3 linked regions of the Homo sapiens genome follow. The protein of the gene in region 3 interacts with the protein of the main gene of each other region in a pairwise test. Each region holds a gene or a part of one and is shown on either strand. Other genes may lie near its edges. The genes, in order: CPSF7, EIF4ENIF1 and ALG13.

Region 1 (3,653 bases), on a different chromosome or scaffold from region 3:
TTTTTGAAAAATAAGCCAGGTGAAGTGGCATGCAGGAGGATGGCTTGAGCCCAGGAGTTCAAGGATGCAGTGAGCTATGATCATACCACTGCTCTTCAGCCTGGATGATAAAACAAGACCCATCTCAAAAACAAAATAGTCCTCTATACAAGGACCATCAACCAATAAGACCACCTTTTATAGTTTATATTCCTCCAGAATTTTTTCTATGCATATGACAATTTATATAATTTTTATTGTTTTTACAAAAACAGGATATGGTTTTGAAACTTGCTTGTTTCAATTAGTATATTCTGGACACCTATTATATCAACATATAACATAACATTTATTGATCCTTACTGTGTGCCTGGCACTGTGCTAAGGGCTTTACATGGATTACTTTGTTTACATACAGGTTTACCTCCTGCTTTTTTAATTGTTAATAGTACATTAATAATGTAATATTCTGTAGAACCAATGTTCCTTTATATAGCCAGACCCTATTGAAGATAATATAACAAACAACACTGGCCGGGCGCAGTGGCTCATGCCTGTAATCCCAGCACTTTGGGAGGCCAAGGCGGGCGGATCACAGGGTCAGGAGATCAAGACCATCCTGGCTAACACGGTGAAACTCCGTCTCTATTAATAATACAAAACATTAGCTGGGTGTGGTGGCAGGCGCCTGTAGTCCCAGCTACTCAGGAGGCTGAGGCAGGAGGATGGCGTGAACCTGGGAGGCGGAGCTTGCAGTGAGCCGAGATCACGGCCACTGCACTCCAGCCTGGGCAACAGAGTGAGACTGTCTCAAAAAAAAAAAAAATGAAAAAAAATAAACACTAAAACACTGTTAAACATACACACTTGTGAACAGAAGTAGAAAATTTTTAATAGAATTGCTGGCTCAAAAAATATGCACATTGTTTATTTTAATAGATGTCAAATAGCCCCTGGACAACAGTGTGTCAGTTTGTTCATCTGACAACATCTGTTAAATTCCGAACTGCTGGAATATAGGTGTCATCCAGTTTTACACTTGCAACATCTGCCTTGTCTCTTTTACCGCGGTTGTTTGGGACGGCTAGCTACTCTTGGTTTGTGTCTGCCTGAGTTCTCCTTTTGGTCCAGTTAGTTTACCATCTCTCCTCACCCTTGGCCTTTCTCCTTCATCCTTTATCAGGGGATTACAGTGACGCAATTGAGACGCTGCTCACAGCCATTGCGGTTATCAAACAGTCCCGGGTTGCCAATGATGAGCGTTGCCGTGTCCTCATCTCCTCTCTTAAGGACTGTCTTCATGGCATCGAAGCCAAGTCCTACAGTGTGGGTGCCAGTGGGAGCTCTTCCAGGTGAGTTGGTGATTGTGTCCTCACCTACCAGCCCCAAGCAGCACTCTTCCAGGGATAGGGAGTGGGGACAAATGGAGCCCAGGGAATCTGGGAAAGACCTGGCCGAAAGTCTGGACGTTAGCCTTCATGTCTTTTTGGGGAAGAAACTAATCAGATGCTTTCATTAATAAGTGTTGTAACATCTGGAATCTGGTGGGTGAGGCAGTGGGCTCATGTAGGAAAAAATACAGACAGATATTTTTAAGAACATGGGTTTTGGAGCCCTACAAGCTTGGATTGGAATCCCAGTTCTGCTGCTAACTATCTGTATGACCTTCTTGTGTATGGAAGTTAGTCAACTTTCCAAGCCTTATTTTTCTCATTTTCTAAAAAAGGGACACTGATAGTATTTATCTTACAGACCTGTTGTAAAGATTAGGTCAGATAATCCATACAAAATTATTAGCACTACACCTGATAAATTAGTTCTCAACAGATAAATTTACCTGTTAATCATCTTCCCAAAAAAGAGTAGTCCTCAAAGAGCTAAAATCCTCAGACAGCAGGCCCATGATAGAGTAATAGAGGAATAGTTTAGGCAAATATCAGAAGACACCAAAACACCACATTCTTGGAAAGAAAGTGGTAGGCCTTCTGAGTGAGGCTGAAGGATCTTTCTAATAGGAAAAGACATCGCTCCCGGGAAAGGTCACCTAGCCGGTCCCGGGAGAGCAGCAGGAGGCACCGGGATCTGCTTCATAATGAAGATCGGCATGATGATTATTTCCAAGAAAGGAACCGGGAGCATGAGAGACACCGGGATAGAGAACGGGACCGGCACCACTGAGAAAGGTGGGGAGAAGCCCCGTTCCTGGCTGCTGGGGGATTTTTTATTAAAAAAAGATTTATAGTGAAGAATTCTCTCTCTTTAAAGCAAAAGTAAATGCAGCAAGGGTAGGGGGAACTTCTGATTTACATAACTGGAATTTCAGGGCAGATTTTCTGCACATTTATGGGGAGTCTTACCCTGAGATTCAGCTGTTTCTGCTTGTTTCTTGACTGCCTTAACCTGGTATCTGAGTGAGAGTATGGTGTCTGCATTCAGGTACCAATTTGAATCCCAGTTTCTCCACTAATAATTGGCCATATTACTTTCTGTTCCACAGTTTCATTTGTAAATGAAGATAATAAAAGCAACTGTCCCAGTGACTTGCTAAGTTTTAGTGAGAGAGTCCATGTAGACCATTTAGCACTCATGGTACCTGTCACATAGTAAGTTCTCAATAATTAATAGCCATTGTTATTATCATTATGAACTTTCAATTTAAATTAGGAAAATTGACTAAGAATAGTAAAGCCATTGCCACTTAGTTTTCAAGCTGCAACATTAATGATTTTAAGAATTAGGCTTGGCATGATGGCTCACACCTATGATCCCAGCACTTTGGGAGGCCAAGATGGGAGGATTGTTTGAGCCAGGAGTTCGAGACCAGCCTGGGCAACATAGGGAGACCCTGTCTCTACAAAAAATACAAAAATTAGCCAAGTGTGGTGGTCCCAGCTACTTAGGAGGTGGAGGTGGGAGGGTTGCTTGAGCCTAGGAGGTCGAGGCTGCAGTGATCTGTGATTGCACCACTGCACTCTGGCCTGAGCGACAGTGAGACCTTGTCTGAAAAAAGGTAGGGAGGAGGGGCGGGTGGGTGCCTCATGCCTGTAATCCCATCACTTCAGTAATTTGGGAGGCAGAGGCTAGAGGATCACTTAAGCAGGAGTTTGAGACCAGCCTGAGCAACATAGTGAAACCCTATCTTTTTTTTTTTGAGACAGAGCCTCACTTTGCCGCCCACGCTGGAGTATAGTGGCATGATCTCAGCTCACTGCAACCCCCACTTCCCGGGTTCAAGCTATTCTGCCTCAGCCTCCCCAGCAGCTGGGGCTACAGGCGCGCGTCACCACGCCCGCTAATTTTTCTGTTTTTAGTAGAGGCGGGGCTTTACCATACTGGCCAGGTTGGCCTTGAACTCCTGACTTCGTGATCAGCCCACCTTGGCCTCCCAAAGTGCTAGGATTACAGGCGTGAGCCACCATGCCTGGCCGAGACCCCATCTCTTTAAAAAAAAAAAAACGGTTTATTTAAAAGATTTTGAAAATTAATATGCTTTAGTCAGAGAGGAGAAAGCTGATCTGAAAAATTATCTTTAACAGGTTTAGAGGCTTTGTGGTGGATAATTAACTTCAACGGAAGGGTTTTTTGCTTTTGGAAAAGACTTAGTGACAAGGTTGTTTATTTTGTTGTTGTGTTTTTTGTTTTGTTTTGTTTTGAGACAGAGTCTCACTCTTGCC
Region 2 (3,653 bases), on a different chromosome or scaffold from region 3:
CCTTGAACTTCTGGGTTCAAGCAACCCTCCCACCTTGGCCTCCCACGTAGCTCGAACTATAGGTGTACACCACCAGGCCTGGCCAGTGGTTACATTTTGTGCATCCAACCTGGAGTCCCCTCCTGCATTTCAGGACATCCCTATGCCCATTTAGCTCTGTGTGAAGTGCTTTCTCTGGTGTAGTTTCCCTTCCACTAGATGGAGCTGTCAAAGTCCAAAGCAGTGTCTAGGCATGACAAATAGCTCAAGAATACCCAAGTATTTTATTGTTGATTTTGGAACTGGGACTAAAGGCAGATGATTTTATAAGTAATCTCTTTAAGAGTCATTTACTTCCATCTAATAAAAACAAATAGACAACTTTATACTGCATGGCTTATTATACTTGGAGGATAGAATCTATAATTTAAAACAGAATTTAGATTGAACCAGCATGTATTATTTTTGGATGAACCAATATGACAACCTAAATGGATGGAGGCAGATCAGAAATAGTATACAAAACATACACAGCAGTAGTAATTAAAGACACCGAATTCAAAAAGTAAACCATGACTTAACAACATGCAAATTGAGCAATATTTTGAGATAACACCTGCTATTCTTACTCCATTACTTTCCTTGTTGTATTCTTTCCTGCTAGCTGAGTTTGTCTTAGCCTTTGCCTAGCCACTTGAATGTGTCATCCATCCGTTTGGCAGGTGTTTGAGGCTCATTTGCTCAGCTAAAACCAGATACACTTCTGAGTGCTAAAACCCCAACATCAAACCAACTGCCCTTACAACTCGAGTAAATTGTGTTAATATCAAATCCTAGAATCATATCTGCAATAAAATGTGGAAAAACATCAGGTAAACTGCTGAATGCCCCCTTCCATATTTTTAGTTGCTCACACCAAAAGAAAGAAGCTAATTATAAGATATGAACCACACCATTGCAGTCAGCACCCAATCACCAAGACACAAATGTAACGAGAAAGGAAAATAGGATAGTCTACCATCTTTCAGTCTGATCTTCATTTGAAAGCATTTGTATCTAATAATTCTTTGTATAAAAGTAACTCTAAAGCAGTTTTACAGGGACATTCTCCTGCAACTGGTATGGTGTGGTCAGATACAAAGAAGTCAGTCTACCTATCTGAGGTGCCTCCTTTCAAGTGTAGGTCAGTCCTGGCACTAAGGAATAATGGAACCTCTGTCTGTCCTATTGGTCAGATAAGGAATGCTAAAAGTCAGTTGCTTTCTTTTGGTATAAGACATAATGATTCAAACAGCTATTGCTACTTGCATCTTGGCTAACTGGTAAGTTCCCAGGCAAGCAGGGAACAGGAAAAAAAGAGAGAAAACTCAATTTGGTAAATTTGCTATAACTTAGCAACTAGAATAAGTCCATGTTTATGTTTTTATTATTCATATCTACCCTGCTTCCACATTAGTTTGTATCAAGAGATAGTGATATTAACACATAGGCTATGGGTAAGAACTACCCTCTCAAAATTGTTAGGACAAAGAACCAGTATATTATAAACATTTGCATTTACAAGGTGATATGCAGTTGTGTCACCTTGTAACCTAACTTCATGCCTACAAGTTTTGTTTTTAACTTGGAGCCACAACTTTTTCCATTAGTAAATTGACAGAATGTAATTATCCTGACAAACCCATCTTACTTTTTTTTTTTTTTTTTGGAGACAGTCTCACTCTGTTGCCCAGCCTGGAGTGCAGTGGCGTGACCTCGGCTCACTGCAACTTTCATTTCCCAGGTTCAAGCAGTTCTCTTGTCTTGGCCTCCCAAGTAGCTGAGATTACAGGCGCATGCCCCCACGCCTGGCTAATTTTTATTTTTAGTAGAGATGGCGTTTCACCATGTTGGCCAGGCTGGTCTCAAACTCCTGACTTCAGGTGATCTGCCTGCCTCAGCCTCCCAAAGTGCTGGGATTACACGCGTGAGCCACTGTGCTCAGCCCCATCTTAGATACTTTACAAATGATTTGTATGACTGCAAGAATGCAGGTAATCCCTGGTATCTGGGAATAATTAGAAGATGTGAATAAAGATTTTACTATACAAATATGGTAAAGAATATGAACTTAAGTAGCTGAATAACAAGAAAATTGTCTCTGGAGTTCATCCAAAAAGATAGTTTTATACCTCATTTTAGCAGTGACTTAAAGTTATACAGGCATTACCATTAAGACTGAATCTTTTAATCTTTATACTGTCACCCACAATACATATAAATTAACCACAAGCCTGCTTTTTCCAGTAACAAATAGCATATCAATAATTAAGGAACACACAAAAGCATCAAGGACCAAATGACTACTAAAGAATTTCCAACTTACTCAGAATACCTTTTTAAAAATCCTTTTATTGTGGTGGGAAAAAGAAGAAAAAAAAAGGAGAAAAGGGTGGGGGGTTTGTGTCAGATACTTACGCTGACTTTGGGCTGAGAAGGCAAAGTCCCACTTGCCTTCATTGTGCTCACTAGCTTGTTGAACGCAGTCATGTCTCCGTCTTTCTTCAGTTGTCGATTGTTGGTTACGGCACTCAAGGTCTCTTCTAGGTGTTCTGCCATGAAGGGAGTTGAATTCTTCACTTGCTGGTCAACCTTCAAGCCCTTCAGACCTGCTTCTACCTCCTCCACTGAAAGCACAACCCCTGAATGTGCTGAGAAGTTGAGAACGTCCAGGTTAAATCAAGCAAAGAGATATCTGGTAGGAATTCTCTTTGGCTAGTATGACAGATAAGATGAAAATAATTTATTTCAAAATTGAGATGAGACTGTCAGAAAAGACTGACACCAAAAATAAACTAATAACACTTAAAATCAAATTGTGTACTAAGAGATGGCATAAACTAAACCTAAAATGTTTAGATGCTAGAAACTGGGGGACCACAACTATGAAGTGCTATTCTTTAAAACTTGACAAGCTCCTGCTGTGCATCCTGCAGAAGGATATGAGTCTTCTGGGAGACTTGTTACCTGGGACAAGAATCCCAGATAGCCCAACATTGCCAAGATTGCTGCCTGCACCGTGGTCATTATATCACTAAGTTTTTATGTTGAGAATTTATAGCCTAAGCAAGAACATGGAAGACTAGGGCAGATTTGTGAGGAAATGGTAAGTTATGCTCTGGAGGAATAAAACATTCACTGGAGTTTGTTTTCAACATTCACTGGATTATTACAACCAGACCCTAGGTAAGAACTTACAGGAAAAGTTCTCATAGGGCTCATGACCCACTGTGAGATTCTCAAAGAGGTGGTATTGTTTGATGAAATGAGTTTTTAAAAAAGAACATTAAACAAAAACCCAATATATATTTGACTTTTTATGAAACAGAGGTTATGTTAGACCCAACTGCCTGAAGACTGAACATCTAGACCTTTTCAGATATCTAAAACAGATATTCATAAACACTTACAGCTTTCTTTAAGTTTTTCTTTATTTGCAGAAAGGCTGGAAAGAAGAGGTTTCAAATCCACTTTGGCTTTCTGTAGCATTTCTAAAATATCCACTTTATTTTCAGCATGGTCTTCCAATGGTATAGGAGCAAAGTAATTCCCCGAGTTCTGTCCAGGAGAGAGGATGGCTTGCTCCAGACCTGATATTGCAAATAAACATACTCAAAATTAATCTGTTCCAGTAA
Region 3 (3,653 bases):
TGGCATATTTCATATAAATGGAATCATATTCCTTTTGAAATCATACAGTTTTTGCTTCCATCTTCTTAGGACCAGTTTCTCCAATCCTTGTTAATGCTTGTTACTGTCTGTATTGTTTATTACAGCTATCCTGGTAGGTATGTAATGATGTCTTATTGTGGTTCTAATTTTCATTTTCCTAAAGATCAATGATTTTGAATATCTTTTTATGTGCTCATTAGTCATTCTTATATCTTTGGTGAAATGTGTATTCAAATCTTTTGTCTATTTAAGAAATTGGATTTTTTTTATTGTTGACTTTTCAGAGTTCTTTATATATTTTGGTACAAAGTTTTTCTGGTTAGATATGTGATGTAAAAATATTTTATTCCAGTCTATGGCTTGTATTTTCATTCTCCTAACAATGTCATTTGCAGAGCAAAAGTTTTTAATTTTGATAAAATCGAGTTAATTTTTTTTTCTATTATGTATCTGAGAACTCACTGCCTAACCCAGGATCTTAAAGATTTTCTCCTATGTTTTATTTTTTAAAATTTTGAAGTTTTATTTTACATTTATACCACTTTGAGTTAATTATAGTACAAGGTGTGAGGTATAGGTTGAGGATCCTTTTTTTTGCATGTGGATGGTCAATTGTTCTGGCACCACTTGATGAAAATGCTATCTTTTTTCTATTCAACTGATTTTGCACCTTTGTCAAAAATCAATGGACCATATTTGTGTGGATCTACTTCTGTGTGCTTCCCTGTGTGTTAACTTTTCTCTTGCTCTGTCTCCTTTTGTCTTCCTGTCCCTACTTGTGTTTTTTTTTCAGTTTTCTATTACTTTTCTGATTCTCTCCCTCCTTCTCCTGATTTTCCCTTCCCCCATTCCCTTCCTCAAAATGAAGCATTTAGATTGCATTGTTTTATATATCATACTTATTTTTAGTTTAAAAAGCAGATGTGAAGCATTTGTGTTTTTCTTTACAAGTACAATATGCTGGAAACAAATTAACTTTTAAATTATAATCCCTTTTTTTTTTTTTGAGACGGAGTCTCGCTCTGTTGCCCAGGCTGGAGTGCAGTGGTGTGATCTCGGCTCATGCCATTCTCCTGCCTCAGCCTCCCAAGTAGCTGGGACTACAGGCGCCCACCACCACGCCCAGCTAATTTTTTGTATTTTTAGTAGAGATGGGGTTTCACCGTGTTAGGCAGGATAGTCTCGATCTCCTGACCTCGTGATCTGCCTGCCTTGGCCTCCCAAAGGGCTGGGATCACAGGCGTGAGCCATTGTGCCTGACCAAATTATAACCCTTAATTAATTTTTCTCAGTGAATTAGTGACCTTAACGAAAGATGGCAATCTCTCTTCCCAAACTGTGTGTTTCAGAACTTCTGCAAAAGGCATCACTTCTCCAGTGTTACAGTTTCTTTAAAAAAGAAATTAGTGGCTGGACATGGTGGCTCATGCCTCTAATTCCAGCACATTGTGAAGCTGAGGTGGGAGGATAGCTTTAACCCAGGAGTTCGAGACCAGCTGGGCAATGTGGCAAGACCCCATCTCTACAGAAAATAGAAAAATTAGCTGGGTGTGGTGGTGGCATGCACCTGTGGTCTTAGCTACTTGGGAGGCTGAGGCAGGAGGATTGTTTGAGCCCAGGAGGTTGAGGCTGCAGTCAGCTGTGTTCACACCACTGCACTTGCACTTCAGCCTGGGTGACAGAGTGAGACACTTTAAAAAAATAAAAAGAAATTAAGGTAATTTCAAATTGGCATGCAAAGGAAGTCAAGATTTATTCCTTTTTTACCATGTCAAACATTATTTCATTCCCAAATTATAAAATATTGCTGCTTTTCCTAGAGGGAGCAGTCATGATTACTACTGGATCCACAGATACAAAAAAAAAAAAAAAAGGAAAAAACAATTTTGAAAGCAGCTTAATGTTGTGCCTTCTCTAAAGCCAGCTTTTGACCTATTTATTTTTAATACTTAAAAAATGTAAGAAAGGAATTGGATTTTTGCATTTAAATAAAAATAAAAGACACTAGATAGTATAGATAATAGGAACAAATAAAACAAGCAATTGGGCCTGCCTTTGGCACTTAGTATTTTCTTTGGTTTTCTCAGAATCCAGAGTAATGTGTCTGGAAAAGTACACTAGTAAAACATTGAAACACATCTCTCATTGTCCAACTCATCTCATACTCTACCATACCATTTCAAATGTAGTCTATCCATTTGTGGATATTTTCATGCTGCTTCCATTTAAATTTTTATTTCCATTTTTAAAGAAACACACTTTTTTGCATTTTTCTTTTTTATTGGTGCCATATAGTAGTTTGGAGGCATTAGTCAAGAATTGTATAAAGTTTCCCTAGCATGGCTAATAAGATTTAGTTTCTGTGATCCTGGCAGAGATTATTATCTAGAATTAAATGAGAAGATTACTTCAACCCTATATCTGAAATATCCAGGTAATAGCCTTGGCACTTAGCTTGAACTGTGCCCTCTGCCGCTATAGATTAAGGGAAGTTCCTTCTCCTTTTTTGTGTTTATTAAAAAGGTATTAATGCAAATGCTTACTGGTTAACTAGGTTCATGAAGATTCTGTCCCTCCATGTTTCCCTGAAACTATGAAAGGAGCAGGGAATTTGGGGAGAGACTGTAGTTGAAAATTCAGCTAGAGATCTTAAAGCAATTCTTCAAGCAATGTAATGTGGACCAGGCTGCATCCTACACACCTGAGCCTTATTGTAGTCCCTTTTCAGCCTCGTGCAGCAGTTGCCCCGAGTTAAGCTGCAAAGTCAGTTTCCTTCTAGACCCAAAGCTCAGCTGCTTATGCATACTTTTCTCAACCTTGGTCTGATTGGGTTAGATTGGGTTAATTCCACTCTTTCCCAAGGAGGTAACTCTAAGTACTTTCTCCCTCCCTCCCATGTCTCCTGCTTAGTCTGAGTTCCCTATTCCTAGGAGGATTGGCTCTTCCTCTTCTTTTCACAGGGTCCTGACTTGTCCTGGGCAAGCCAAGTCCATTGCTTCTGCTCCTGGGAAGTGCCAAGATTCTGCAGCGCTGACTTCAACTGCCTTTTCAGGCCTAGACTTTGGGCTGCTTTCCGGATACCTGCATAAGCAAGCCCTTGTTACTGCTACCCATCCTACCTGCACCCTGCTTTTTCCCTCTTGCCACGCTTTTTTTCCTCTCCCTCTTACCCCCACCCTGTACAAAATGCATAAAGGATGGAAAAACTACTGCAGCCAGAAGTCTTTGAATGAGGCATCAATGGATGAATATTTAGGCAGCTTAGGGCTGTTTCGAAAGCTGACTGCCAAGGATGCCTCTTGCCTCTTTCGGGCCATTTCGGAGCAGGTAAAAGGAAAACATATCTTCCCTGTACTGAGTTTTCAGAGTTTGAGACATGGGATGGTCCTGTAGTTTGCCAGAAGAAACAAAAAAATTCCCCTGCTTTCTAGTGAAAACATCGGGCCTGTCAAGGTCCTAGAGAGAAGCTGCCTGCTCTTATTAGCTTGGTGCATGCCTTTGCTGAATAGTCTATATTGCTGAACCTTTGCTATCTTTTCTGTTTTTTTAAATGCCAGTTTGTAATGTAGGAGGGGTAAGATAAGGAGGCTAAAGACAACTTTGAAATATATCTTGATCCTTTGTAAGCATCC

Evidence for each region.
Region 1: the proteins of ALG13 (region 3) and CPSF7 interact in a two-hybrid assay, tested with the Homo sapiens proteins (one large-scale study listed by BioGRID).
Region 2: the proteins of ALG13 (region 3) and EIF4ENIF1 interact in a two-hybrid assay, tested with the Homo sapiens proteins (one large-scale study listed by BioGRID).

What each region holds. Positions count from the first base shown.
Region 1 is NC_000011.10:61,409,447-61,413,099, reverse strand, and holds part of CPSF7 (cleavage and polyadenylation specificity factor subunit 7), read left to right. Parts: intron 1-1,162; coding exon 1,163-1,331; intron 1,332-1,994; coding exon 1,995-2,157; 3' UTR 2,158-2,162; exon of another isoform or gene 2,163-2,519; intron 2,520-3,653.
Region 2 is NC_000022.11:31,451,708-31,455,360, forward strand, and holds part of EIF4ENIF1 (eukaryotic translation initiation factor 4E transporter), read right to left. Parts: intron 3,609-3,653; coding exon 3,429-3,608; intron 2,670-3,428; coding exon 2,437-2,669; intron 1-2,436. UniProt on the Homo sapiens protein: EIF4E-binding protein that regulates translation and stability of mRNAs in processing bodies (P-bodies). Plays a key role in P-bodies to coordinate the storage of translationally inactive mRNAs in the cytoplasm and prevent their degradation.
Region 3 is NC_000023.11:111,705,046-111,708,698, forward strand, and holds part of ALG13 (UDP-N-acetylglucosamine transferase subunit ALG13), read left to right. Parts: intron 1-2,981; coding exon 2,982-3,348; intron 3,349-3,653. UniProt on the Homo sapiens protein: Catalytic subunit of the UDP-N-acetylglucosamine transferase complex that operates in the biosynthetic pathway of dolichol-linked oligosaccharides, the glycan precursors employed in protein asparagine (N)-glycosylation.